2 separate regions of the Homo sapiens genome follow, and region 1 is linked to region 2. The links come from fine-mapping of genetic effects on gene expression. A gene starts in region 2. The other region holds a variant in brackets. All regions are shown on one strand. Distances are between the middles of the regions.

Region 1 (2,753 bases), 22 kb after region 2:
GGCAGCTGTGAGGCCCACTGTCGCCCTAAAGTGGGGTTCCCACAGCTCTCCCCGGGAGTTTGCATGCCCCTGGGGAGTTAGAGGTGAACGTGGCTTTCTTGGGGAAGCCTCCGCACAGTGACTGTTGGTGTTGGCTCGATGCTGTGGGTAGCATCCAGCCATCAGCTCCACGCGGGATTCCTGGTTCCCATCCTACTCTTGGGTGGTCTCCTCTAGTACCCCTTGTGAGAGCAGATGGATCATCATCTTCTTCTTAGAAACCATTTTTTCATTGCGGAAAATTTCAAACATACAGAGGAGAGAGAAACAACAGCATCCCCTACGTCCTCACAAACAGATTTTTAAAAAGTAGTGATTCTGATCTTTTGGGGTCAGGTCACAGATCCCTCGGGAAACCAAAGGAAAGCCAGGGACCGTGTCTCTAGAAAAACAGAAGAGTGGAAAGTCCCTTTTCCTGCACCCCTCCCCAGTCCCTTTGCCCAAACTTTGCCAAATTCTGATCGGCTCAAGCCTGGATCATTTGAACCAGTTACTGTGGAGAGGGGAGAGGGATTGAACCAGTCGGGGCCCACATGAGTGCAGGTGCTTTCATGTGCGGTTTGAGAGCTGAGCTGTGAGGCAGAGCCACGTTGCACCCCACGGGGGACGTGGAGACCGTTGTTCTTGTTCTTTGTAGGCAGTGAGGCGAGTCCAGGAACCAGATTGTATTTGCAAAGGAGGAGGGCTGGGGAGGGTGAAAGTCCGGTTATGATGGTGAAGTAATTTTTAATCTGATCACTGACAGTGAATGTTGAACTCTGCCAGGAGTGTTCGGAAGCGGCTCCCTGAGGACGGTCCTGCTTCCACCTTTGTTCTTAGCACTGGCCCTGGCACAATTTAAAAAATTTTTTTAAAATTGTTGTTTAATTTTTAAAAAATTTTTTAATTATAATTTTTTAAATTTAATTTTTTTTTTCAATTTCTCTTGTGGTAACAAGCACCTATTGAGCTATTTGTGTTTATGTTCCAGGATTGTGCCAGTCTTGGCGTGCTAAGGTCTTAGGCGGTCCCGTCACGTCACTGGCCACGGGTTCTCTGAATCCACTTTAATCCTATTTTGTGTTGAAAGCAGGATTTTGGTAATGAGCCTGTGTTGACCCCTTTTCTCTGAAGCACGAAGTTCAGAGCTTTTAATTCCCTGCTTGTTTCCTGGCTCCCTGTCTTTGTCTCTCTCTGTCTCTGTGTCTCTGTCT[C/T]TGCCTCAGTCTTTCTCTTGCCTCTCAGTTCAAGGTATGTTACCATCCTTGCTTCACACAAAGTTACTTTCTTTCCCTCTCCTACCCTCTTTCTCTCTTCCTTCTTTCCTCTGTATCTGTTCCCTTCTTTCTTTCTTTTTTTTCTGAGATGGAGTCTCGTTCTGTCACCCAGGCTGGAGTGCAGTGGTGTGATCTCTGCTCACTGCAGCCTCCATCTCCCTGGTTCAAGCGATTCTCATGCCTGAGCCTCCTGAGTAGCTGGGATTATAGATGTGCACCACCACGCCCAGGTAATTTTTGGATTTTTAGTAGAGACGAGGTTTCACCATATTGGCTAGGCTGGTCTTGAACTCCTGACCTCAGGTGATCTGCCCGCCTCAGGCTCTCAAAGTGCTGGGATTACAGGCATGAGCCACCGTGTCTGGCCCTGTTTTCCTCTAACGAGTACCTGTTTATGTTCTCTTTCTCACTATGGGCCTCACTCTGTCATCCAGGCTGGAGTGCAGTGGTACGATCGTGGCTTGCTGCAGCCTCAACCTCCCGGGCTCAAGTGATCCTCCTACCTCAGCCTCCAGAGTAGGTGGGACCACAGATGTGTGCCATCACGCCCCCCGGGTAATTTTTAAATTTTTGTAGAGCTAGGGTCTCACTATGTTGCGCAGGCTGGTCTCGATTTCCTGGGCCCAAGAGATCCGCTCGCCTCGAATTCCCAAAGTGCTGAGATTACAGGCGTGAGCCCTGTACCTGGCCCAAGCATATATTTTTAATGAACATAGCTGATCGAGTTTCATCTCTGACTCTCTTCTTGGCTCACTCAGTGCTATACTTTCAGGATCCATCCATGTAGCTGCCTGCACCCCTGGCCTGGTGTTTCCCTTCAATCCCTTATTCACAATTTCATTTCCTTCCTTATTCACCTTCCTTCCCTTCCACCCAATCAAATGATGCCAAACACACATTTTGAAAAGATGTACATTGGGAAGGCTGCCTCCCTGCAAGAGCCCCTGGCCAAGGCCTCGTCTGTGGAGCGTGGCAGGGAGCGTGATTTTTAGAGCTCTTTCCAGCCATGGTTTTCTCCCTGATCGTGAGAGAGTAGCTGTGCCTCCCTTGGGCCTCTTTCTCTGTTTTTCTTCTTTTGTTAAAATAGAGACCATCTCTTTCTCTCCCAATTGGCAAGAATATTGCCAGAATTAATGACATGAGAGAAAGCTACTTGAACTTTAGATTCTGTGGATGGTACAATTTGTTTTTCATTACAAGCATATGTTTAGTGTTAAAATTTACTTCGTGTTATGATTGCAACATTATACTGGAGGAAAACCCCTTATGTGAAAGAGAGGTTGAATTGTGGGGAAATATTTCTTTAATCTATTGCTTTTGAATATTATTTTTTTGTAGTACATTTCTGCCAAATTCAGGACATAGATAAGTTAGCATTTTTCCTAGTTGAGAGATCCTTTTCCTGTTCTGACTTCTGAGTTTTGGCTGCGGGAAGTGGAAAGAACTTTCTTAAATTATGTC
Region 2 (2,737 bases):
CTGGACTGCAGATGGAGACCTGGGTCATCCCAGAAGCTTTGTAGTGTGAGAGATCAAACTGGCTGCTCTGCCAGGCCTCACCTATTTCCAGACTGGATGATTCCTGATACTTTTACTTTTGAGCCCAAACTAACTTCTGCATGGAGGTTCAGTACAGGTCAGGTGAGTGACGAATCTCCTGACAGGGCTACAGTGAACTTTCACAAGGTTAAACCTTCTAAACTTGGGAAGCTGCTTTGCAAAAATAAATAAATAAAATAAAAATCCCTTACTCAATTGTTGACTGGGTATTATTCCGGAAACAGGAAACAGGTTTTTCATTTCTGCCAGGTTGTGCCCCAGCTTCCATTTGCTAAGCAGCTTAGGGGAACATTGGATTAAAAACCACCCGTAAAGAAAAGGCATTAAGAAATTGATTTGAACGATTTGAAATTATTATCTTGAAAGATCAAAGAAACAGTGATTATGAACACCGGCTCTGGTGGGAAGCGGTTCTTGAAAGTTAAAGCATGGGGGAACTCGAGTACTCTGGAGCATCATCAGCATCTGTACAATGCAAGTGAACTCTGGAAGCTAGACGCATGCTTTGCACGTGGACACAGACACATGCTTGCACAGGACACATTTGCAATACATACATGTTTATACATGGACACATGTTTTGCACACGCTTGCACAGGACACGCTTGCACAGGACACATGCACAGGATGCATGTTTTGTACAGGACACATGTTTTGCACATGGAAACACATATCCATGCTTTGCAAAGGGACACAGGGAAGCATGCTTACAATGGATACAAGTTTACACACGGACGCATGTTTTGCACAGGACATATGCACAGGATGCATGTTTTGCACACGGACACACACGTTTACATAGGACAAGTGCACAGGACACGTTTTGCACCGGACGTATTCTGTGCACGGGACGCACGGTTTGCAGATGCAAGCACACACACTCCTCGGCGCGACGGGCGAAGCGGGGTGGGCAGCGACAGCGGAGTCCGGACCCAGGGACAGCGCCTCCGGGAACCTCGCCAAGGCGGCGGGAACTACAACTCCCGGCTCGGTCGCCTCGGGACGACGCGCGGCCCAGCGCAGACTGGCCCCGCCCAGCGGCCCCGCGCGGCCCGGCCCAGGTCCCGGCGCCCAGAGTCGCCGCGCGGCCGCCGGTGAGCCGCATGGAGCCCCGGGCGGCGGACGGCTGCTTCCTGGGCGACGTGGGTACGTGCGGGCGCCGCGGAGGTCAGAGCGAGGCAGCGGCGCCGGCTCCTGAGGCCGGCCGCGTATCCGATGGCCTGCGCCGGGGAGGTGGTGGCGCGCCCCGCGCTGGCTCCGTGGGCGGGGGCGTTTGGCGGGGTGGGCCGCGGTGAAAGCAGGGTCCCAGTGGTGCCGCGCATCCCAGACGGGCTCTCATGTCTGGTGCCTTGTCCCAGGCCAGCGCACTGCGGGGTTGCAGTCCGTGCGGCTCGCCAGGTGTGGGGTTTCGCAACCGCAAACCCACCGAGCGCCGCGCGCCCTGGGGAAGGTGCGGGACGCGTGCGGGGCCGTTGCCCAGTGGCGGGGGAGAGCCTGGGAAACGCCCACGGTGCTCCCTCTCGGGGAAGCCAGGCGCGAGCCCACGGTAAGAGCTAAACCCCCCTCCACTGGCGCGGGTGAGGCCGTGGCGCAGTGTCCGAGCATCCTGCAGAGGCGTCCGCGTGACCCCGACTCCGCTCCAGTGAAGGTGGCCTTGGGGCACCCCGGCACACTCCGAAAAGTGCCATCCCAGTTCGCAGCCTACTTTACCAAAATCCGAGCAGCCCAAGAATGAAATGGATTTGAGGGAAGGACACTCTTTGGGGAAGCAAATTTTTTTGCTGCCTATGAAGCAATAATATGGTCACTGAAATGAGCGACGGAAGCACTATGAAAGCCTAAAAAGAAAAAAAAAATCTAAAGCATATTCATCCTGGTAAAAACAGTAGTGCACCTAAGAGGGAAAAGTCTTAAGGGTAAATTTAGCTGAAGAGGAAGTTGCAGTCATAGCAAGGCAAAGATATTTTAATTGACTTTGCAAAATAACCACCTTTGACATGATCAAAGGTATCTAATAAGCATGTGTTTTTACTTGGCATTCCAGTCCAGGCAAGCACAAGACTTTGACCCTGACACTGTGATCTGCATTTGATTAGCTTAATTGAGTAAGCAGTGAATAGCTAACGGCAGAAGCTTATTTAAACACATATTTTAATATTTCTGTTCATGGCATCACTTCTGAGCATGTCTTCTGCATCGTTTGTTATGGAATGCATCTGTAGAAGAAAGGCACATTTTAAACTAATGAATCCGCAACTTTTGAGGTTCACTGGTATTTTTGACATTGTCATTTTTTATTTAATATATTTCTCCCCAAATAAGTTCTGCTGATGTTTTTTATTCCCAGTGTAATGAATAAGCTGAATGTGTTGGATCCAAAACAATACTGCCATTCCAGCAGCACCAGAGGCGAACCGTAGGAGCTTTAGACAATTTTAACATTCTGACCTCAAATTCTGGATGTGTGGTGTACCGCGACCAAAACATTTAGGTTTTGGGCTGTTGCGCAGTCTCTCATGCCTGTAATGCCAGCACTTTGGGAGGCCGAGGCAGGTGGATCACTTGAAGTCAGGAGTTCGAGACCAGCCTGGCCAACATGGCGAAACCCCGTCTCTACTAAAAATACAAAAATTAGCCGAGCATTGTGGCGGGTGCC

What was found.
Region 1: its variant is fine-mapped to the expression of ASB13 in whole blood (TOPMed, PIP 0.95).

What each region holds. Positions count from the first base shown.
Region 1 is chr10:5,643,442-5,646,194 of GRCh38, reverse strand. The region is part of intron 4 of ASB13 (ankyrin repeat and SOCS box containing 13); the gene reads left to right. Among named protein-coding and RNA genes, the nearest start is that of ASB13, 22 kb to the left of the region's middle. The variant C/T (reference allele first, on the strand shown) is at 1,233.
Region 2 is chr10:5,664,999-5,667,735 of GRCh38, reverse strand. It overlaps ASB13 (ankyrin repeat and SOCS box containing 13), which reads left to right and starts at 1,141. Exons shown (of 6, transcript NM_024701.4): 1 at 1,141-1,227. The coding sequence starts at 1,185. RefSeq lists silencers at 1,138-1,207, 1,508-1,557.